3 separate regions of the Homo sapiens genome follow, and all the other regions are linked to region 2. Evidence: fine-mapped expression QTL. A gene starts in region 2. Each other region holds a variant in brackets. All regions are shown on one strand. Distances are from middle to middle.

The links.
Region 1: its variant is fine-mapped to the expression of ATP5F1C in atrial appendage (GTEx, PIP above 0.99).
Region 3: its variant is fine-mapped to the expression of ATP5F1C in blood mononuclear cells (TOPMed, PIP above 0.99). The same link has a PIP of 0.9 or more in whole blood.

What each region holds. Positions count from the first base shown.
Region 1 is chr10:7,831,062-7,839,245 of GRCh38, forward strand. All of the region lies in intron 2 of TAF3 (TATA-box binding protein associated factor 3), which reads left to right. Among named protein-coding and RNA genes, the nearest start is that of TAF3, 17 kb to the left of the region's middle. The variant A/G (reference allele first, on the strand shown) is at 3,921.
Region 2 is chr10:7,783,465-7,791,632 of GRCh38, forward strand. ATP5F1C (ATP synthase F1 subunit gamma) reads left to right here and starts at 4,713. Exons shown (of 10, transcript NM_001001973.3): 1 at 4,713-4,799. The coding sequence starts at 4,744. It overlaps KIN (Kin17 DNA and RNA binding protein), which reads right to left and starts at 4,529. Exons shown (of 13, transcript NM_012311.4): 1 at 4,356-4,529. The coding sequence starts at 4,469. RefSeq lists enhancers at 4,482-4,801, 5,254-5,797.
Region 3 is chr10:7,815,375-7,823,552 of GRCh38, forward strand. It overlaps TAF3 (TATA-box binding protein associated factor 3), which reads left to right and starts at 3,131. Exons shown (of 7, transcript NM_031923.4): 1 at 3,131-3,501. The coding sequence starts at 3,336. It overlaps LOC105376392 (a long non-coding RNA gene), which reads right to left and starts at 2,989. Exons shown (of 3, transcript XR_001747356.1): 1 at 2,878-2,989. RefSeq lists enhancers at 2,807-3,325, 3,138-3,197, 3,326-3,843. The variant C/T (reference allele first, on the strand shown) is at 4,662.

The DNA of each region.
Region 1 (8,184 bases), 48 kb after region 2:
CATTAGGGGTTACAAAGTAATGATAATACTATCACTTTGTTTTTATTTCATTCTTTAGTTGAAATAACTTTATAAGAAAATCCTTTTCCTCATCCACTATTTAGTAACTTAATGGCATAGTTTATATAGGGAAAGCAGGGTTAACGCTTGATTTTTTTCATATGGTATATTCCCAGTTTTCATGAGAATAAATTGGTTCCTTGTTATCCTTAGCAGGTGACTAGTTTCATTTAATACTCTATCATTGTGAACTCACAGATTTAAACATACTTGACGGATTTCATTCATTACTTTTTTTTTTTGAGATGGAGTCTCACTCCATCGCCGAGGCTGGAGTGCAGTGGCTCAATCTTGGCTCACTGCAACCTCTGCCTCCCAGGTTCAAGGGATTCTCCTGCCTCAGCCTCTCCAGTAGCTGGGATTACAGGCATGTGCCACCACGCCCGGCTAATTTTTGTATTTTTAGTAGAGGCGAGGTTTCACCATGTTGGCCAGGCTGGTCTTGATCTCCTGATCTTGTGATCCTCCTGCCTCGGCCTCCCAAAGTGCTGGGATTACAGGAGTGAGCTACCGTGCCCGGCCTCATTACAGTTTTTTACCCATATTGTAGCTTTAATTGTTGCATCTTTGGCCAGTGGCAGCTTCTTCACTCTTGCTTCTGAGTCCTTTTGACACATGACCCGAATTGGCTTTGGTGACGTCCTCACCTTCTGGTATATCAAAATGTTCTAGACTCAGCATGTATAGTCATGTTCTATGCTTGGTATAAATTATCTGTCCAGGAAACCCTGGTTTCTTGGAAAGTAGTATTTCTTTTCTTTTTTTAATTTTAATTTTTTTTAATTATAAAATTTCAGGTTACATTTGTATATATCTGGGGGGTGCAAAGCGATGTTATGTTTTATAAATACAATGTGGAATAATTAAGTCAAGCTAGTTAACATACCTGTCACCTCAAATGCCTATCGTTTTTTGTGGAGAGAACATTTAAAACTTACTCTCTTAATGATTTTCAAATGTGTAATACATTATTATTTTTCTTTTTCACCATGCTGTGCAATGTATCAAAAAAAGTACTCCTCCTGTCAGATTGAGGCTTTGTACCCTTTGCCTATCATCTCTGTATCCCCACATCCCCACATCCCCTGCCCCAGCCTCTGTAACCACTGTTCTACTCTCTGCTTCTTGGAATTTGGTTCTTTTCGTCCACATATAAGTGAGAACATGTGGTATGTCTCCTTCTGTGCCTGGCTTACTTCACTTAGCAGAATTGTTTGAATTCCATCTATGTTGTCACAAATGACAAAATTTCCTTCTTTTTTTAAAGGCTGAATAATAATACTTTTTAATTTTTATGGGTACACAGTAAGTATAAATATTTATGGAGTACATAAGAATTTTAATAAAAGCACACCACAATGTGTAGTAATTACATCAGACTAAATTGGATATTTACCACCTGAAGCATTTATCATTTCTTTCTTATTTATTTATTTATTTTTGAGACAGTCTCGCACTGTCACCCAGGCTGGAGTGCAGTGGTGTGATCTCAGCTCACTGCAAGCTCCATCTCCTAGGTTCAAGTTTAAGTGATTCTTGTGCCCCACCCTCCCCAGTAGTTGGGATTACAGGTGCCCACCACCACACCCGGCTAATTTTTGTGTTTTTAGTAGAGATGCGATTTCACCATGTTGGCCAGGCTGGTCTGAAACCCCTGGCCTCAAGTGATCTGCCCACCTCAGCCTCCCAAAGTGCTGGGATTACAGGCATGAGCCACTGCACCTGGCCCAGCATTTATCATTTCTTTGTGCTACAGATATTCCAGTTATACTCTTTTAGTTATTTTTAAATGTACAGGGTGCAGTAGCTCACACTTGTAATCTTGTCACTTTGGGAGTCTGAGGCAGGAGGATGATTTGAGGCCAGGAGTTCGAGATAAAATGTTCAATAAATTATTGTTGACTTTAGTCACCCTGTGGTGCTATTAAAGGCTGAATAGTATTCTGTGGTGTATATATATTACATTTTCTTTATCCACTCATCTGTTAATGGACACTTAGGTTATTTCTGTAACTTGGCTATTGGGAACAGTGCTGCAGTGAACTTGGGAGAGCAGAATCTCTTCCACATAATCTTTTCAAATCTTTTGGGTAAATACTCAGGAGTGGGGTTGCTGGATTATATGGTAATTCTATTTTGAGTTTTTGGAGGAAACTCCACATAGTTTTCCATGACTACTAATCTAAATTCCCACCAACAGTGTACAAGGATTCCCCCTTTTCTCCACATCCCTGCTAACACTTGTTACCTTTCATCTTTTTTATAGCAGCCATTCTAACAGGTGTGAGGTAATATCTCACTGTGGTTTTATTTCTGTAATGATTAGTAATGTTGAACATTTTTTCATGTATTTGTTGGCAGTTTGTATGTCTTATTTTGAGGAATGTCTATTCATTTTTTATTGGATTATTTCTTTCTGTAGGGTTTTCTTTTTTCCTTTTTTGGGGACCCAGCAATACTGCTGATTTATTACAAGTCCCCAAGAGGGCTTCAGTTTTTCTTTTCAACATCCTGTTCTGTAGCTTCCATGTCTCTTTTTGTCCATATGTGGAGGAGCCAGGCATTGGCACGGGCCATGCAGCAACTAGCAAAGGCTCTGAAATTCTTCTCCTCAGTGGTGACTTGAGCTTTCTCCTTCTCATAGACATTCTGGATGGGCATGACTGGTCCTGTCAGCTGGGTGGCCAATTGCAGTTCTTCAGCAGAACTGTCTCCCTTCCTGGGGACCGAGGGCTTCCTGGGGAAGAGGATGAGTTTGGAGCGGTACCCCTTCAGCCGCTGCACAGTGCGTGTGGAAGTGGGGCTTCAAGATCTTGCCATTCCCGCTGGGCACCATGGCTGCCTGCTGTCCTCCGGCACAGGACAACAGCCAGACTGTTCTTTCTATAGAGTTGTTTGGGTTCCTTATATATTTTGCCTTTTTTTTTGGTGGTGGTTGTGGCTCTTGTTGTTGTTGAGTTGCTTACATGTTTTGGGCGTGAGCCCCTTGTCAGATGTGTGGGTGCACGTGTTTTCCTCCTCACCCACAGGTTGTGCCTTCACTCTGCTGTTTCCTTTATTGTGCCAAAGCTTTTTATTTTGATGGAATCCCATTTGTTCAGTTTTGCTTTTGTCACCCTGCGCTTTTGGGGCCAAATATAAAAAATAATTGCCCAGACCAGTGTCTTACAGTTTTTCCCCTATGTTTTCTTTTAGCAGTTTTGTAGTTTCAAGTCTTACATTTAGGTCTTTATTCCATTTTGAGTTGATTTTTCTAAGTGGTATGAGATAAGGATCCAATTTCATTCTTCTGCATATGGATATCCAGTTGTCTCCACGCTGGGAAATAGCATTTCAAGTACACAGTCTCGGTGCTAAGGGATACTTATTATATATAACTCGGTTGTTCATTGTTTCTAGGCAATAAGTAAATAAATATTTATATACATGTAGATGTGTGTGAATAGATAGATAGGTGGATAGGGTTCCTCCTGAGTTCATGCAGATTTTCCAATTCATATTTAGGACTACAAGGTTTTTATTTTTTATGTTACATCCATAAATACTGTCATCCATACTGAGAATTCTGGTTCTCAGGAATAAAGAAGATGATAAAATTAGAATATTCCATAATTATTCATTTGCTTTATCCCAGATTACACGTACAATATTGCAACTGATACTATCATTCATGATTACTGAAACAGGTAAAAAAAATTTTTTTTGCTCATTCTGTCCTATGAAACCAATTTTCTTTCATTTTACCGTGTGTATCTTGTCAGATCATATAGCTACTGTCTTGAGTTCTGCTACCTAATTTCTGAGTTTTTTCTGATTTTGATTTATATACTTTCATGTCTTTTAGATCATTTCAAGATAGA[A/G]CATTATAGGTTCATCAGTTTTTTCGAGTGTGTGTTTCTCTCGTACTTTCATTGTCTGGAGGGATGTTTTGCTATTTAGTCTTCTCTTCTTTATAGAAACTATATGTGAGTTAGTTTTCTGAGCCTTTAGAACACAGGTGTCCAATCTTTTGGCTTCCCTGGGTCACACTGGAAGAAGAAGGATTGTCTTTGGCCACACATAAAATACACTAACACCATCGATAGCTGCTGAGCTAGAAAAAAAAGTCACACACAAAAAAGTCATAATGTTTTAAGAAAGTTTACAACTTTGTGTTGGGCTGCATTCAAAGCCGTCCTGGGCCGCATATGGCCCATGGGCTGTGGGTTGACAAGCTTGCTTTAGAAGGAGATTCAGGGTAGCTCCTCTGACTTTGCAGTGCTCCCTCTTCTATCGTTTTTGCGGAATGTTCCAAATATGGGAACTTGCTCACTGAGATTTTTTGTTTGTTTTCCTCCACCACTTTTACCTGGATCTTCTCTTCCCTTCATGTCAGTTTTCCTTTTTCTGGCCAGCTGTGATTCCACTGCCAGCTGTGTCCTCTCAGCGAGGCTCTGTCCTGGCAGAGAGCAGCCAGGGTCAAGTCTGAGAGCTCCTGGGCTCAACTTCTAGCCCCATTGGATCTCACTCAGCCCCTTGTACTCCCTGTACTGGAAGTGGTCCCATCCTTCCCAGCCTCAGCCGCTCTTCTCGGGTTGGCCTGCCGGGCTTTCCAGCAGAGGCCTGGTGGCCCTTTTGGGGTTTTCCTGTTTCAGGTCAGTCTTCCCGTTGCTTCTCACTGTTTCCCTTGCATAGATGCCTCATACTCGGGTCTCATGGCGCTTGGTGGCATGTTGTCACCTGCATGTATTTTGGCACTGATGGGTGTACTCTGTCACCTGGTTATGTTGGGAAGATGCACAAACTACCTTGCCCCAGCTACCACTTTCTTCCCAGGATTCCCCTTATTGAAGCTTTTTGCTGCTTTCATCACTGTTGGGCAATTCCTGAAGCTGCTTTTCTTCAGCGCCATCATACTCCCTTAACTCTCCTTATATGATGAGCTCCATCTTGGGGCCTTTCTTGGGCACGTCTTCCCTGGCTCTCCTACTGCTAAAACATTGGTGCTTCTAAAATTTTATCCTTCACCTACTATGTTTCTCACGTTACTTAGTTTCAGAGTTGACTTTCCTACTCTCATAGTTTGAACCCCCATCTGTATGCTGATGCCTCCCCAAACTGTCCCTCTACATCCACCTCTCAGACCCTGCAACCAGTTGCAGTTGGCCATTTCCACGTTTTCTTTTTTCTTTCTTTTTTTTTTTTTTGAGACGGAGTTTCGCTCTTGTTGCCCAGGCTGGAGTACAATGGCACAACCTCCGGCTCCCTGGTTCAAGTGATTCTCCTGTCTCAGCCTCCCGAGTACCTGGGATTAGAGGCATGAGCTACCAAGCCCAGCTAATTTTGTATTTTCAGTAGAGACGGGGTTTCTCCATGTTGGTCAAACTGGTCTTGAACTCCCGACCTTGGGTGATCTGCCCACCTTGGCCTCCCAAAGTGCTGGGATTACAGGCGTGAGCCACTGCACCCGGCCCATTTCCACATTTTCTTACCACGAATACACCTGTGTTATCCATCTCAGTTGGTGGCACCATCTCTACTCAGTCACCTAAGCTAGAAACATGAGAATTAGCATTGACCTCTTCTCTCATTCTCCTTCATTCCCTATCTCTAATTCTGCTAATTTTCTTTCTTAAAAAATTTCCAAAATATTATTGCATCACTTCCTTTGTTTAAACCTTTATCTCTTGTCTGAACTGTCCTTATCCTCTAAACGAAACTATTAGACAAAAAATTAACACATCCCACATTATAAAACACTTTGTTGGCTCTCCAACTGCTTACAGTTACCAAAAATACCTATGGAGAGGAGTTTTCTTTTTTGCATCAAAATGAAAAGAGCTTTGGTTGAGTGTGATGGCTCATGCCTATAATCCCAGCACTTGGGAGGCCAAGGCAGGAGGATCGTTTGAGCCCAGGAATTTGAGACCAGCCTGGACAACATAGTGAGACCTTGTTTCTATAAAAAATTTAAAAATCTGGCCAGGCGTGGTGGCTCACACCTGTGATCCCAGCACTTTGGGAGGCCAAGGTGGGCAAATTGCTTGAAGTCAGGAGTTCAAGACCAGCCTGGCCAACAGGGTGAAATCCTGTCTCTACTAAAAATACAAAATTTAGCTGGACATGGTGGCATGGGCCTGTAGTCCCAGCTACTCGGGAGGCTGAGGCAGGAGAATTGCTTGAACCAGGGAGGTGGAGGTTGCAGTGAGCCGAGATTGCACCACTGTGCTCCAGTCTGGGCAAAAAAAAAAAAAAAAGTCAGCTGGGTGTGGTGGCTCATGCCTGTAATTTCAGCACTTTGAGAGGTTGAGGCGGGCTGATCACTTGAGGCCAGGAGTTCAAGACCAGCTTGGCCAGCATGGCGAAACCTCGTCTCTACTAAAAATACAAAAATTAGCTGGGCGTGGTGGTGCGTGCCTGTAATCTCATCTACTCGGGTGGCTGAGGCACAAGATTTGCTTGAACCTGGGAGGCAGAGGTTGCAGTGATCTGAGATTGCACCAGTGTACTCCAGCCTGGGCAAAAGAGCAAGACTCTGTCTCAGAAAAAATAAAAAATAAAACAATTAGCCAAGAGTGGTGATGTAAGCCTGAGAGGCTGAGGTGGTGTAAGTACTCAGAGGCTGAGGTAGGGGGATCACTTGAGTCTGGGAGGTTGAGGCTGAGGCTGCAGTGAGCCACTGCACTCCAGCCTGGGTGACAGAGTGGGACCCTGTCTCAAAAAAATAAAAAGGGAATAGCTGTAGTTATTCAAGAGAAAAGATGTTTATTCTTACAACGTAGATTACTTACTGATTTAATAGAGGAATGTTAATGAAGATATTTGCATGGCTTTCAGTTGCTAAAATAATGTTTGTGTATGTAAAAGCAGCCATCAAATAATTTATCCTTGATATCACATAATATATTCATAAACATTATCTCATTTAATCTTGAAACAGGTCCTAAAGGCAGATGCTGCTATCATTCCCATTTATGGAAGGAGAAATGGAAGTTTAAAAATCATAATTGAATTAACCTGCCTCGTGTTGCATTGGGAATTGGGAGCAAAGCTGGATTAGGGTTTAGTTGACTCCGTTCAGTGCTGTGTGTATGGGTACCTGCCATGAGTCGGATCCTACACAAGGAACTGGTGTTGAATATAGAGAGATGAGTGAGATATTCCTCTCTCCCCATTTTGGCCTTTCTGCTGTTGTTTGGAAGTCCCTGCTTGGCCAGGACTGTCCTAAGCAGAAGAGTACCTTTACCAAGCCAGTTTTGTTTTTTTTTGTTGTTGTTGTTTGTTTGTTTGTTTGTTTTTGAGACAGAGTCTCACTCTGTTGCCCAGGCCAGAGTGCAGTGGCCTGATCTCGACTCACTGCAACCTCTGCCTCCCGGGTTTGAGCGATTCTCCTGCCTTAGCCTTCCAAGTAGCTGAAATTACAGGTGTGCACCACCACGCCTGGCTAATTTTTGTAATTTTTGTAGAGGTGGGATTTCACCATGTTGGCCAGGCTGGTCTCAAACTCCTGACCTCAGGTGATCCACCCACCTAGGCCTCTCAAAGTGTTGGGATTATGGGCGTGAGCCACTGTGCCTGGCCAAGCTGGTTTTCTTAATGGGCAGGCAGGCTTCTTGAATACCTTCTGGCCCCCTAACATCCGACGCTATAAGCCTCCTCCACACCCAGCCTCCTAGTTAAGGATCTGGCTGCCTCTCTCTTGGCCCTCTCAGATACCTTCCTGTTCATTACCTTGTTAGGCTGGAGTTCCAGGGTCTGGGGAACGTTCCTTCTGTGTATCTAGGGAAGTTGTCTGGAGGCATTGCTTGTTTTTTTTTTTTTTTGGTTTGTTTGTTTTGTTTTGTTTTTAAATCCAGCAGCATCTGAGCCAGATAATTGCAGCTGAAATCGTACCAAGGGCTGATGTTGGGATATGCCTGTGGTGTTCAGTACACGTGTCTTAGCATAAACCTACAGGGCCCTGTGTGATCGGACTCCTGCCCACTTGACATGTTAGTTACTTGCCCCTCGTTGCTTCGTGCTTTACCTTCCAGAATCATTAAACTGCTGATGTTTCCCAAAAATAACTATGTACCTGGGTCAGCTCATGCTGGCATGGAGTTCTCGTCCATCACCATGCCCACCCTGGCTTCTTTGAGCGCCCGT
Region 2 (8,168 bases):
TCCATTTTTTAGACTTAAGTTAATCAATTCTCATTGAGCACATACTTTATACAAAGTGTCAGACAAGTGCTCAAAGGAGTAAAATGGGTCATTAGTGAATTTTCACCACAGAAACTACTTTCGCTCACTTTCCTCTACTTCAGCTCATTATCCAAAATACATTGCTGCATATTATATTAACCTTGTTAAACATATTAAATCTGTACCTTCTTAAAATGACAGGAAAAAAACATACAAGTTTTGACTTAGTATACCTCTCCTTAATATTTGACCCTCATTCTTCACTAGTAATAGAAACAAAAAATGTGCCTTTCTTGTATTCCCTATCTCTATCTGAAGCACAAGCACCCAAGCCATGAAACCAGACAACATCCTAGATTCCTTCTTCTCTTTCTACCTCCAATTTAATAGGAAGTCTATTCAGCTTCTTAATAACCCATATTCAGTCCCTCTGATCAATCTCACTGACACCGTCCAGATTTCCACACTCGATTTTGCTTCAAATAGTTTCCTAATCTTTAGATCATGGACCTCTTACACAATTTTTGCCTCATCTGTGCCCTATAAGAATCATAGTTATTATTTAAATTTATTTTTAAAAGAAACTTGGTATCAGCCTCATAAATAAACAGTATCACTTTCCATATATTAAAAAATAAAATAAAATGAACAAACAATACAGTTACTAAATCCTAGAAACCCAGGAGTAGATTGGGGGGATACCCTGGCTCTGACCTTCATTCTCTTCAGCCTTCCAGTATCAGGAGATTACAGAAAAGAATTAATCCTTTACTCCTTTCCCAAAAAAATTGCATCTCAGTTTAACATTTAAGGATGGCCAGACACAGTGGCTCATGCCTGTAATCCCAGCACTTTGGGAGGCCAAGGCAGGAGGATTGTGTGAGCCTCCGAGTTCAAGACCAACCTGAGCAACACAATGAGACCTCCATCTCCACAAGATATTTTTTGAAAATTAGCCAGGCATGGGTGGTATGTGCCTATAGTCCCAGCTACTTGAGAGGCTGAGGCGGGAGGATTGCTTAAGCCCAGGAGTTGGAGGATGCTGTGAGCTATGATCGAGCCACTGTACTCCAGTCTGGGCAAGAGTAAGACCCTGTCTCAAAAACAAAAAAAAATAAGTTTAAGGATAACCAAATAGCCCTAGTTGATGAGCAAAAGCTCATTTGTACAAAAGCATGGCAGCCAATCATAAATGTTAAAAAAAAATTAGAAAAATAACCTCTTTGCAACTCCTAATAAAATAACTGACTCAGGCAAGGATGCTAAAACACACAGGTAAAAGGTTAATGGGAAACTAGATATATAGGTATGATTTCTAAGTATTACCCCAATACTCACTTGCTCTTACAAGGGGGAAAATAATACTTTCTAATATTATTTACAAGCTGTCACCTTTACTCAATTTAAGTACTACCAAACATTATTGGCTTCCTTATATGATGCTATATGAGATATACAAGATCACCTATAAAGAATACTATAGGCTGGGCATGGTGGCTTGAGCCTGTAATCCTAGCACTTTGGGAGGCCGAGGCAGGAGGAGTGCTTGAGTTCAGGAGTTTGAGACCAGCCTGGGCAACATGGGGAGACCCTATCTCTATACAAATAAAAAAGTTAATTAGGCATGGTGGCAATCACCTGTGGTCCCAGCTACTTGGGAGGCTGAGGCAGGAGGAGGATTGCTTGAGCTGGGAAGGTCAAGGTTGCAGTGAGCCATGATCGCGCCACTGTACACGAGCCTGGGCTACCAATTGAGACCTTGTCTCAAAAAAAAAAAAAAAAATCATATTCCTCCCTGCAAATGTTTAACCTGAAATTAATCTATCAAGATCACCTACAAAGTATTCTTTCTCCCCAAAATGTTTAATCTAACCCAATCAAAGCTTTTAGATATAATTTCCAGTTGACAGAAACTACGAGTTAGAAGGCAAAAGACAACCAGAGGAAACAAGTCAACATATATGGGATGCTACAGGACAACAGCCTGGCCTCCTCTCTTCAACAAGTCAATGTCAAGAAAAAGACGGCTGGGCGCAGTGGTTCACACCTGTAATCCCAGCACCTTGGGAGGCCGAGGCAGGTGAATTACCTGAGGTCGGGAGTTTGAGACCAGCCTGGCCAACGTGGCAAAACTTCGCCTCTACCAAAAATACAAACATTAGCCAGGTGTGGTGCCAGGCACCTGTAATCCCAGCCTGTAAAGTAGCTGGGACAGCTACTTGGGAGGCTGAGGCATGAGAATCACTTGAACCCGGGAGGCAAAGGTTGCAGTGAGCTGAGATCGCATCACTGCACTCCAGCCTGTGAGACAGGTGAGACTCTGTCTAGAAAAAAAAAAAAAAGAAAAAGGGGTGGAGGGAAAATGGGTTATATTCTAAATTCAGAATATAGAGAAAATTAAATTTGGAGAAAACTAAAAGTCCTAATAACTCAGAGCACAGAGGACTTTTTGGGCAGTTAAACTATTTTGTGAGATTTTATAATGGTGAATACGTATCATTATGCATTTGTCAAAACCCATAGGATGTACAACACCAAGAGTGAACCCTAATGTAAACTATGGATTCTGGATGATACTGATGTGTCAATGTAGTTTCATCCATGGTAACAAATATAACACCTCGTTGCAGGATGTTGATGATGAGGGAGACTGGAGAGGGGAGCGGAGGTCCTAATAACCAAACCTATAACAGTCTATTGCTTTTGATCGAATCTTGATTTCAAGGAGCAGTTGGAGGACAACTGAGGAAGTGTGAATGTGTATTAGATGATAAAGAGGAACTTCTATTAATTGTGTTATGTTGATGACATATACTATGGTTATATAGAAAAGTATCCTGAAATTTTAGAGATGCCTATTTAAGTATTTAAAGGTGAAATATCCTGATATTGGTATTTACCTTAAAATATTTTTTAAAAAGTAAATACGGCAAAATTACTTAAAGTGTTAAGTCTGGGTGTTACAGACTGCATGTCTGCGTCCCCTCAAAGTTCATATATTGAACCCTAACCCCCAAGGGAATGGAATTAAAAGGTGGGCCTTTGGAGATGACTGGATTTAGATGAGGTCACAAGGGTAGAGCCTGCATGATGAACAGGGTGGGACCGTATCTCAAAAAAAAAAAGAGGAAGAGAAGTTTCTATTAGAGCTTGCTCTATCTGCTTTGTGAGGATAGAGGCAGTTTCGCAAACCAAGAAGAGGACCCTCACTAGAATCTGACCATGCCAGCACCTTGATCTTGAACTTCCCAGCCTCCAGAACTGTGAGAAATAAATTTCTGTCATTTAAACCACCCAGTCTACTGCACTTTATATGGCAGTCCAAGCAGACTAAGACATTAGATAATGCATATACAGGTATTCCTTAATAGAACTAAAGAGAGTAACTGTATCAATATTAGTATGAGTCCTACCTAAAATACCTCTTCCTTCACTTGCAGAAACACTGGATTAGATTATTCCAATTGCCTCAGTGTTCTTCCACCCTTACCCAATCCAGTCCAATCTCCGGAGAAAAATATGATCACATCACTAGCCTGCACAGCATTCAATCAACCACCTCTTTAATGGGGAAAAGTGTAAATTCCATAGTGTAGCCATATAAGGCTTTTCGAGATCTGCCCAGACTCCTTGAGCCACTCTATATATACTTCACTCATTTAAAACTCAGCGACAATCCTACAAGTAGGTGAAATTATTATTCCCTCTTTACAGATAAGTAAAGGGGAATATAAGTAAATAACTTGCCCAAGACCACACGGTTGGTAAGTGGCCCTGCTTGACTTTAAATTTTGACAGTCTGATATATCCATAAACCAGATAAATCCATAATTTTAACCACAATATTATTCTGTGCCCGGTACAGTGTAGGTGCTCAATAAATGCTTGCTAGATGAGTAGTGTGGAAGAGCTTAGCTCTCCTTTTTCACCTGATCCCAAAAGAGGAGTGAATCCTAACCACCCTGTTTCTCTTAAGAGTCAAGTCAAGTAAGAGCTGATGACTGTTACTGGCATTGCCCGGGCGTCTAGTATTGCAGTATCCCCGCCCCTGTGAGGGGTGCAAAACCTTTTCTGATTTCATTTCTTTGGTGGTGGGGATCGGACTGGGGAGGAATGAGGGGTCGCAGAACACAGGCTGCCCGCTGGGCCCGGGGGCTGCGGGGAGGGACGGCTCTCGTGCGCTGAGTAGTTGACTCGCCCACTGCAGACCTCAGAAGCCTCACGACCCGGACCCCGGGAGCCCCAGCCCCGCGCCCTCAGCCCCGCGTCCAGGACCTGATCCTGGATTGCCAGGGGCCCTCCTGGGAAGACGGGGCCACTCCGGGCCCACTCACCTCGTCCCGGCACTGCTTCTGGCACATCTGGCAATACCAGCGTAGCTTCTGCAGCCCCTTGGACTTGATCCTGTTGGCGATAGCCTTGGGAGTAAGAAAATCCGACTTCCCCATGGCGACCACGGCAGCGATCACTTTCTGGACCCCAGTACTCAGCCAGCCGGAAACGGAACCGGGCTGGCGGCGGTGGGCGGGACAAATCCCAGCTGAGAGGCGGAAGGAGGTGGGGCCTGGGAAGACTGGGTTGCAACGGTCGCGAGACTCCCCTCGCCGTAGCGCGAAGAAACGAGACTGAAGAAGAGAGCAAGGTGGGAGGGGCGCGCTGGGGAGCTTCGGCGCATGCGCGCTGAGGCCTGCCTGACCGACCTTCAGCAGGGCTGTGGCTACCATGTTCTCTCGCGCGGGTGTCGCTGGGCTGTCGGCCTGGACCTTGCAGCCGCAATGGTATGGCAGCTTGCGGGAAGATCGGCAGGACCGCAAGGGATGGAAGAGCTTGGGCACGGGGCAGGGAGGAGGAGATGGGCGCGGGGGCAGATGTGGGGTCGCAGGGCCTAGCTGGGCCCCTGGCCCGTCGGAGGCGCCGGGTAGCGGGGGCTGCAGGAAGCGGCTCTGAGGTCGGGCAAGGTGTGCGCAGGGCCGGGCTCCGGCGGAGCAAGGTCCCGCCCGGTTCCCTGAGGTCGGAGGGCCACCTGGGACCTCGGGACTGCGGCCTGAGTCCAAATTGACGTCTGGGCGGTCTTGAGTTCCCTCAGCTAATCAGCACTTCCTGAGCTTCCACTTCCACTGCAAGCCAGGCCCCCAGTCTCAGGGCCTGCAAGGTGACGGGAGCCTGAGCAATAGCCCAGGGGAAGGTTAAGTCGTGCTTTTTGTCCTTGACGCCCTTTGAAACCCTGTAGTGCTGGACAGAGTGACCCTTTAAGATTCGATCGAGTCAGAGAGCGCGGCCGTCGAGCACCTCCCGTGTTGCAGACGCTTTGCTGGGTGCTGCAACAGCAAAGGCGAACATCCTAGATGCCTCTGAGGGTGGTTTTGGTGCAGAAGGGACCGTACAGATCTGTCTGAGGGCGGGGAAGGGAAGGACACCTAGCACTACCTTGAAACCACTTGCTGAAACCGTAACCCTGCAAGGTCATGAAATTGCCCCCAGGTCCTGGGGGAGGAGTTCGGTGGGCTTTTAAGTGGCATTTGTTAACTGACATGCAACTAAAGGGTGCCACGAGCCTCGAGAATTTTAAACATTAGTTCCGGGTAGGGGGACCTGGGCTGGGGGAAGTGCATATTAGAAGGCCCGGGAATGGGCAGGTAAAAGTTGGTTTGTGGGTGGTGCTGTTCAGTTTTGAAGCTTGACGGAATCTGGAAGAATTCCAGACACGCTGCTAAGGGGATTCTAGGCTGTGTCGTAGCAATTCCCTGCTCTTAACAGTGTGGAGGATTTCTAAGGCGCTACAGTGCTAAACTAGATTTTCGTATCCTAATTTATATGAAGGGACCATAAAGCATTAGTTGAAATAAATAGGTTTTTCATTAAGCAAATAACTGATAGTAATATACGAGATTTTCAGAATGATATCTGATGTGAATTAGCCACATAAAATTTTTGGTGGCTTGGCCTTGGAAGTCAGATTTTTTTTTCTCTAATATGGAAAAAGAACATTCATGGGAATTAAAAGGTCACTGTAGTTGAATTCTCAGTTGTATAGATTGTCCCACTTGTTAACCACTCAGCAGACATTAGCTGAGTGCTTCCACTCCACCCGGTGGTACTTGGAAAGTGCCCAAATGTGATGGTGAGCAAATAGATAAGGTCTCAGTCAGTTTCCTGGGACAGTGCCTGGCATGCAGTGGTGCTCTGCGAACATCAGCTCTCCTGGCCTTACCTTCTTGCCACGCATTAATGTTATCTGTCAGTATTTTTACAACCTTAGTTTCTAAGTTGATCTTTAAAAAAGTGGAAATAGTTTCTGAAACAAAGACAATATTTTACAAAAAATTTTAGAAATATCTTTTTTTAAAGCACCTGTAAGATAATTTGAAGCTCTTTTAGTGAAGGATTGTTTTAAATAAGAGCTCTCAGTTCAAGACAACTACTGTTAGGAGCTTAAATCGGAACCACAATCAGCATATAAAGGTCCTAATCCTGACCTTAATCCCTTTGGAATATTGGTTTTATAAATCATCAATCAACAGTGTTCCACTATGAAAGCATATTCTGTCTTCTTCTTTTCATGTATTCCTTCACTGCTGGTGCTTAATGTCTTTCCTTCCTCTTCTGCCATTTCTCTTTCCATGAATTATAATTGCCTTTTGAATTCAGAAATTAAAACCACTCCACAGAATTAATTTGGAAGGGGAAGAAAAGACCTTTGTCTTAACGAACCATGAAGAGGCATATTTCCATGCTTCTGTCTTGATTACTGGAAGTTTTTTAAAGTACAATTTGTTATTTTAGTTTTTGTTTTCAGAGAGGCTACCATGCTAACATAAAAACATTAGGCTTACTTAAATTCACAGTGGTTATTTTAATAGTTGTTAGGGTATCGGCAAAATACTCTAACGTTTTGAAAATTAAACCTTTTTTTTAAAGCAGCATATAAGAAAATGGAAATTAAAAATTTGAGAGAAAGAATCCCGGATTTTACTGTCTTCAAATTTGGGAAAAACATTTCTATTTCTTAGAGTTCAGTAGTCTCTAAAATGGAACTGTTTTTTAATAACGTGTCAGTAGTCATAAACTACAGATACCGATAAGGAGATGGCATTTCAGGAGAGAAAAGACAAATTGTCATCTGAGACCATGAGGGCAGATATTTACTAATAAATGTAAAAAATGTGAGGCAGCAGAGTGTAGTACTGTATGAAGAGAGAGACTCTGTAGCCAGCCCTGAAGGGCTGCATTCAGACGGCAGGGATTGAATTCTGATTGCCACTTAGCAGCTCTGTGACCTTGGGCAGGTTACTCAGTGTCTGTCCCACCAGTTCCTCATCTGTCAAATATATGCAATAAAAGTGCACAATTCAGTGGGTTAGTGTGAGGATTAGAGTATTTGCAAAGCATGTAGGACAATGGGGGAAATGCTGATAGGGATCCAAATGCTGTATATCAGTAGAGAAATGAAGAGTTTTTAAGTACAGTTTCTACATCAAATGTAATGTAAGAAGATTGCTTGGACTTGCGAAAAGAGGAAAAGAAGATGCAGTCGGGCTAGGCGCAGTGGCTCACGTCTGTAATCCCAGCATTTTGAGAGGCCGAGGCGGGCGGATCACAAGGTCAGGAGATCAAGACCATACTGGCCAACATGGTGAAACCCTGTCTGTACTAAAAATACAAAAATTACCCAGACGTGGTGGTACGCACCTGTAGTCCCAGCTACTCGGGAGGCTGAGGCAGGAGAATTGCTTGAACCCGGGAGGCGGAGGTTGCAGTGAGCTGAGATCGTGCCACTGCATTTCAGCCTGGCGACACAGTGAGACTCCATCTCAAAAACAAAAAAAAAAAGATGATGCAGTCATGGGTGTGGGTTAGGTAAGTGTGAAGGAGTCAGTTTTTGCTGGTGGCAGGTAATGGACTTTTACACGCTTAATATCAGAATTAGAGTCACTTCATAATTTTCGTTGAGAATTAGCCAATATTGCTTGCTTTTTAAGTTTTTATGTATCTTAATATACTCCTTAAAAATCTCTCAAACAATAGTTTCTTGGAAGGGTGTCATTCCTGACTCCCTCCTCCACTGCCTTCGTCAGCTGTTATAACAGCGCTGTGGAATCATGGTAGATAGTGGTAATCCACGGTCCATTTGATTCTCCCTCCACTGT
Region 3 (8,178 bases), 32 kb after region 2:
CCTAGGCTGCTGTGCACTCTTTAAGCCAACAACCTTTTTTCTTTTTGTAGAGACAGGGTCTCACTGTTGCCCAGGCTGGAGTGCAGTGACTCGATCATAGCTCGCCGTAGCCTCAAACTCCTGGGCTCAAGTTATCTTCTGGCCTCTGCCTCCTGAGTAGCTGGGGCTAATTTCTTTATATATATATATATATATATATATATATATATATATTTTTTTTTTTTTTTTTTTTTTTTTTTTTTGTAGAGATGGGGGTTTCACTATGCTGCTAGGGCTTGTCTTGAACTCCTGGCCTCAAGCCATCTACCTGCCTTGGCCTCTCAAAGTATTGAGATTAAAGGCATGAGCCACTGTGCCCCACCAAGTCAATGACTTCTGTGATGCTGGGTTCCCAATAAGTAGATGACACAGGGTGGAGACTGGGGTTTCTCCACTTACATCACTCCCAGGGACCCACCTGGGAAATTGTTCTTCCTGTCCTGCCACTCTGGGTTCTCCAGGTTTACAGATCCCATTTCCAAAAGGGGGAATGCTTTCACCAGAGGACCTAGCAGGAGTCCCACTGAAACATTAGCTACAGTTGCTGCCTGGGCACTTCCACTGAGACTGCAGCTAAGAGAGGAGTCATCTTTAGGAGGGGGATGGGCTCCTATTACAGAGTGGGAGGCAAGGTGGAGTGTTTGGTTTCCACATGGTCTGTTTGGGTGCCTCTTGCCCAATTTTGGGTATTCTCTTCCCCAGTTCTGATGGTACAAGGACGAGTTCAGCAGCCACAGTCTGAAAAGGGCCTGGAAACCAGGGGCTCAGACCTGCACATGAGGGTCTGCATCATGCCACCAAATAAGCTACTGAGACCAGAAGTGAGAGAAATGTAGGCCTGAGGAGGAGAATACTGAGTATCAGCTGAGGCCTGGCTGCAGCAGTCGGGGCTCTAATTTGTCTCCTGACCTTCCTCTTTAATGTTTTCCCCAGGGAAAGGGCCCCCTCCAGAATCCTGGAGGAGCTGTTCCTCAAACCAAGAAGTGTCTCTGAGGGTAAAATAGATGAACTGTGATGAATGCTCTAATCCACTGCTCAGAGCCCCCTCAGGACTGAAGGACTTCAGCTGTCCTTGGAATTGAATGGACTCAGCTGCAGTGTTCCTTTGCCTGAGAGCACACACCCTTTCCCAGGTAGCCCTCATGCAGTGACCTGTTCCTATGGGAATATAAAGGTCCAGTCTTCTTGTTTGGATTCAGGGAAGCTCTGAAGGGCCACTCCAGCTTCTGCACACTATGGCATTGGCTTGGCTGAGGCTTTCTTGCCAAGGAATTCACTGCACCCTGGCTTTCACTCCTTCCCCCAAGTCCCAGGAGGATCCCTCAATGAACTTTCTGCAGGCTCATCTCTATTTCAGAGTTGACTTCCTGGGGAACCAAGCCTGTGACATATGGTCTTGTGTATAGTTATGTGGGGGAATGTTCTTGTTTTGGGGTGATACATGTCGAGGTGTGGTGGGGTTAAGTGTCATGAAGTTTGCAGCTTATTTTCAAACTGCTGGAAAAAAAATACCTGCGTGCATATATAAATACAAAATATATAGTAAATTGGCAAAATGTTAACAATTGGTGAATCTAGTTGAAGTGTACACGTGAGTCTATGATTTTGTTTCAACTTTTCTGTAGGTTTGAAATTTTCCGAAATAAAATCCCCTCCCCTATACACAGAAAGGCAAATGAAGAGGAACAAACACCCAGGGTGGCGGCGGTAGCGGGACAGATTTGTGAAATCCAAGGCGCAAGAGAGTTTCAATGTTACAGAAGCGTTCAACATTATCAAATAGCTACAAAATAATCAAGTACGGCTAGGACTGAAAAATGTCTCATAGATTTAGCAACACAATGTTCCTGATAACTTGGGGACAGAGTGTCCAGGGAGTAAATGCAGGCACCTTGCCCTTTAGTACCTTGCTTCTCTGCAGATCGTCATTTAGCTGAAGAACCATAATTTCAGTTCTATTATTGAGTTTCCCAGACTTTGAAAAATGTGAATATCATGTTCAAAGTTCTGGAATAGTCCCTGTCGGAGGAATATAGAGCCACTCATAAACTCGCAATTTATTGGAGGAGCACATAAACTAAATACACTGTGATAAGTACAGAAGGGCATATTTAAGAAACCGCATAGTTCAGCCACTACAATCGGGCGACCTGCAGGCTGAATCTAGACTAACCGTGGGATCAGTTTGGCTTTTGAGATGTGTTCCCAATTCTGTATTTAAAAATCAAGATATTTATCCCTAAATCCGATTTCTGGCAATACTTGGATGGAGCTGGGAGAAGGCTCTGGGGTAGGCAACCGTTCCCAGGACACTCGGCCTGCGACACCGGTTTAAGGCTCGGTTTGGCCTCTGTAGGCAGCCGAGGTCCCCATCCCCCGATAGGTCACAGCCGCGATGCTCAAATCGCACACTATAGCCCACAGGCAGCTTACCTGTTTTTTTTAAAAAAAAAAAAAAAAAAAAAGTTTTATTGGAACCAGGGCTGGGATTAGAATGACATGAGTGAGTCAGGAGTTTATGGCATGGATTTGGATTTTTTTAAAAAAACTGTTAAAATATTATCGATCTTGATGACTGAGTTTTTTGAGGCCCCCATTAATTTGGCACAGAGTCCTCCTAGTTCCTGCCCTATTGCGAAGGGCTTTGAAGGGCATGCGGAACAGCTTGGACTTTATTTAATCTTTGCAGTGGCAAGCAGCTCAATACACAGATTTTTAGCTGAGGCAACACCAGCGCAGGTCTGCGTTTGGCGAGCTCCGTAAGTTCCCACGCCCCAAACTTCTCTCTAGCACATAACTCTCTAATATGACTAACGTTATTAGTGCTAACTCTCTAACCTGTCAATGTCGTATCCCAGATCCCTCGTTTGCCTCTAAAACACTGGCGTTTTCGTCACCGCTGTCCCCCAGGTGAGCGCCCCAGCACCTGCCGCCCTGGGCGCCTCCTCCACCTGCGCGCCCCACGCCCGCTTCCGGCCGGCTTCCAGGCCTCAGAGGCGATCCCGAGGAATCGTTCCGCTCCCAAGGGGCGGAGCTTTCTCATCGCCGCGCTCGGCATTCGGCTTATGCTGCCTCGCCCCGGCGGCCGTCCAGCGGGAGGCGGAGCGAGTCCAAAATGGCGGCTCTCAGGCTGGCGCGCTCCGTGCTGCTGGGGCTTTGAGGTGGTCGCCGGGGGTCCGGGGGACCCTTTCCCCGCCGCGGAAGCCCTAGAGGATGAATCGGGGACCCTGCTAAGGTCTGGCGGCGGGGCTGGAGAGCAGTGGCAGCAAGGGCTGCGGTGGCGTCCACGCAGCGGGATGTGCGAGAGTTACTCCAGGTCGTTGTTGAGGGTCTCGGTGGCGCAGATCTGCCAGGCGCTGGGCTGGGACTCGGTGCAGCTCAGCGCCTGCCACCTCCTCACGGACGTGCTGCAGCGCTATCTGCAGCAGCTGGGCCGGGGCTGCCATCGGTACTCTGAGCTCTGTGAGTACCGGGCTGGGTGCGGGAGGGCTGCCCCGGCAAGTCAAGGGTGACACCTTCGCTCTCCCTGTCCCTCCGCGTCCCCGGGGTGTGCATCCCGCACCCCGCCTCGAGATCTGCTGTTTCCTCGGCCTCCCACGTCCCTGGGCTTCCACTGCCGCTCCAAACTCTAGTCATCCTTCGGGTGCCTCTTCCTTATCCGCTAACTTCCCGCCACCAGCCCGGGAGTCGGGTCTTCGCTCCCAGCTCCACACCCTCCTACCGCTCCTCCGCTCTGAATTGTGTCTGGATCTCTCTCATTGTCTCCTGTTTGCTGCGGGTAGATCCACCCCCAGCGTGCCCTACACCCTCTTTTACCTCGGTCCTTTTTCTCCCTTGCCCGCAAACTACTACAACTAGTTGTCACAGGCGCTCCGTCTACCGGCCGTTTCTTACAAGACTGGCCATTCCTGGGCTCCTAACTACATAGACTCGTTGACAGCTCTGCTCCGTTAGGGACACTGCCTCGTCTTTCTGTATCTGTTCGTTTCGTGAACGACATCTCCATTTACTGTTTTTCCAAGGCTGACTTTGTCAGTTTCGCTGATTAGATGTACTTTCACTTACGTCTCGGTTACCAGTGAGATGTCAGTGGCTATCGAAGTAGGATAGAGGGACCGTGGGCAGTTGACAAGATTCTCCAGGTAATCTGGGCTACAGTACTTATGAGTTTTAAATGAATGTCTGGTAATATCTATAGCTAGTGGTATTTAATAATTTAATGGAAGGAATGGAATATTTTAATAGAAGCTCCACATTATCTTGTTGATGTGAAGCATTGTATGTGTGTTTGTTGAGGAGAGGAAACTACCACTCATTTTAGTTTCAAGTCATGATGTTTAAGGTGGTGAGCTGGAGAACTGAATGAAGTGTTTCATAGGATATTTTGTTTTGTTAAAGTGGTTCCTATACTGGAAAATTGAGACTCACAGACACACGCTGTATTTCTTAGGCCCCAAGTTTCGTTCCCGCTTCCACAGGGCTGCCAAAATAATCTGTCCATAGCACAGATCTGATCCTGTCATTATTCTTAAAAACATTTTAACTATACTTCGTTGGTTACAGGCTAAAAATCGAAACTCTTAGCAGTACACAGTTCCCTTTGTGAGCTAGCATTTTGCTTA[C/T]CTTTTGCCAGCCTGCCATGCTAATCTGCGACCACGCTGAGCTACCTGCCTTTTCCAAAATGTTTTAAGCTGTCCATTCCTACATGCGTGCTGTTTCTTACCTAGAGTGTCCTTTGCCCGTGGCCCACCAATAGTATTACTTTTATTTTCAGATGCACTTATCACTTGCTCTAGGGAACTCATGTTATCTGCTTTCATAATTCTGTGCATATTTCTTTTATATTATTTGTCATCTTGTTTTGTAATCACCTGTGTATGTCTCTTTCCCCTCTCCAGGAGAAAAATTGATTATATTTGTATTCTGTAACCTGTAGGGCCATTATATAATAGGCACCTGAGAAATATTTGTTGAATAAATGAATGAACTGATAAACCACTACCCTAAAAGCCACTTATTGACTTTACATATTGAGTTCCAAAAATGTATATGTTTTGAATGCTTGATTTCACTGATACTTCTATTACTCTTCTTCTTTTGAGACAGGGTCTCACTCTGTCGCCGAGCGTGGAGTGCAGTGGTGCGATCTTAGCTCTCTATAGCCTCGAACTTCAGGGCTCAAGTGATCCTCCCGCCTCAGCCTTCCAAGTAGCTGGGACTACAGGGATACGCCACCATGCCTGGCTAATCTTTTTATTTTTTGTAGAGATGTGGTCTGGTTATATTGCTCAGGCTTGTGTCAAACTCCTGGGCTCAAGTGATCCTCCTGCCTCAGCATTTCAAAGTGCTGGGATTACAGGCATGAGCCACCATGCCCAGCTCACTGATACATCTGAATGTGGAACCACAAAGTAATATGCGTGCATTTTTATCTTGAAAGTACATCACCAGCTGACTACTCTTCTGGCTTTTGTTTCTTTTTCCTCTGGCCTCCGCTGCAGTGGTCCTTGAGTATACCGTTAGTGATAGGCTAGGCTAGGCTAGGCTAGGCATAGTCCAGATTATGTTTGCTACCATGTATCTTTAGATATTCAAAATGTCTCCTGAATACATAGTTACCTTTACTGCCATTTATACAAAACAGAAGGGAGCTGCCACTCTATGTGACTAGGTATTCCAAAGTCATCCAGGGGTCACTGCAGCTCTTCAGTGTAAACCTTGTTCCTAATTACCAAGTTTCCGTAGCCAGTTTCTTGGTTTCAGTGAGAATGAGATTGTCAGGTTCATTATTCCCACGTAATTTGGTGACTTTTTTTTAATGCTAATTTTGGTATACTTATTAGATATTTTTAGATTCTTTTTTCTATACCAGCCTTATTCTAAAATCAAATTCTGTAGCTCCAGGTTACCACTATGGAATCTTGTATTCCACCCCTTTAAATCCTTTCTGTTGTTTTAACAAACACTTACTGAGCATCACTTACGAACCAACCCCTGTACTAGGCATTGGAGACATAAAATTACTAAGATACAATCCCTGACCATAAGGTGTGTTCAAGAGTTCCAGAATGTCAGGAAACAACAAACTGATGGTGTTTGTTTCTTCTAAAAGAAATGTTCTCAAGTTAAAGCAAGTATTAGAAGTTACCATTAATTCAAATAATGAACAAATAATGAACTTAAGAATTGCCTTAGGGTAACAATGTCTCCAAGCATTCAAGGGCAGATGTCTCTGTCGGTGTCACATTATATGTTAAATATGTTGGCATGTACTGAAAGCAGGTGCTAAATCTTTCAGACTGACTCTTCAACACTAGTACTGTAATATTTTTTTGCATGGTACAGGGAGTAAATGTAAAAGGGATAAGAGGAGAGATGGCTGTAGGCTATAGATTCTGGGGTAGGATTACTTCACAGAAAAGATAAGATTTGAGTTGAGCTGTGAAGTATGGTTGTATAAAGGTATAGAGTATTCCAGCTTAGAGAATCACATAAACTAAGCTGTCCAGGTGAGATTAAGCATAATAAAAGTACCAGTAAGGTGTTCAGCTCCCTATGCAGCTAGTTCATTCCAAGGGTGTCTGAGTAAAATGTTCAACAGAGTGAGATCAGGTTATGGAAGGACTTGAAAGCTAGACAAAAGAATTAAAACATGTAGTAGAAAACATTGCATACTCCTAAGTAGGGGAATAGTATGATTAAAGTGGTATTTTAAGAAAATTGTACTGACAGTGATGTGCATAAGAGATTGAAGTGGGCAGAACTTGAGACTATACTGAGATAGTGACAGTAAGAATAGAGAGAAAGGAAAAAAATCTGAAATCATGGTTAAAAAAAAAAAAAAAAGGTGGCCGAAGGGGACGGGGACAGGGTTAGAAACTACCAGGTTTTGGTTTGAGGCTGCAAAGCATATGGAGGAATTTAAGATTATTATATTTTTTAGACTGAGAGAGTAATAATAGCTTTAATAGGAATAGAAGAGATGAAATGCCTGTTTACATTCAGTAAGAAGAAGAGTATTCGTTTTATTTATTTTCTTTTTTTAATGCATCACAGAAGTAACCCATACTTATAGAAAAAAAAAATCAAAGACTGCAGAAGTATGTGGAGTTAGAAGTCAGTCTCCTGCTTCCACCACAGCCCTCGCCTCTACTGCAGCTTCCACCCCTCGAACTGTTAACCATTGGCTGAATATCCTTCCAGAGGTTTCTGTATGCATTACTACACATGCGTCCAATTCTAGCAATATTTGGATTCTTTTTCATTTTACAGTGTGATTTAATTTCAGACATACTGAGTTTGAAGTGATCAAATTTCAGGATTTCAGTTAAAAAGTCAGGATTTCAGTTAAATCCTTTAGGCTATTGAAAATCAGAAAATGGAATTTTCATAGACATTTTTAAAGATGTAGAGACCTTAAGCTCTGCTAAGAATAGGCATAAGAAAAACTTGCTTTTGTAAAGAAAAAAATCTCTATATCTAACTTTTTATCTCTGTTTTATGTGGTGTTTTCTAATTACATTTGAAAATTTATAGATAAATTATCTTTATGGCTAGGCATGTTGGTGGTGCACTGGTAGTCCCAGCTACTCAGAAGGTGAAGGTAGGAGGATGGCTTGAGCCTGGGAAGGTAAGGTTGCAGTGAGCCATGATTGCCCTTCTGCACTCCAGCCTGGGCAGCAGAGTGAGACCCTGTCTCAAAAAACGAACAAAAACCAAACTTTTATGATCTAAGCCTTCTTTGTAAATATTCTTAGATTTTAAAAATTGATTTAATGGTATAATTCATTCAATAGGTATTTATTGAGTGCCAGCTATGTGCCAGCCACTGTTTAAGATTCTGCAGATGCATCAGGGAACAACAGAGGAAATGTAACCAACATTGACTTTGTCAGCACAGCACACTACTTATTTGATGATTAAAAAAAAAAAAAAGGCCAGGCACATTGGCTCATGCCTGTTATCCCACCACTTTGGGAGGCAGAGGCAGGAGGATTGATTGAGGCCAGGAGTTCAAAACCAGCCTGAGCAACATAGCAAGAACTCATCTCTACAAAATTAAAAAAAAAAAAATTACCCAGGCATGGTGGCATGTGCTTATAGTCCCAGCTACTCAGGAGACTGAGAGGGGAAGATCGC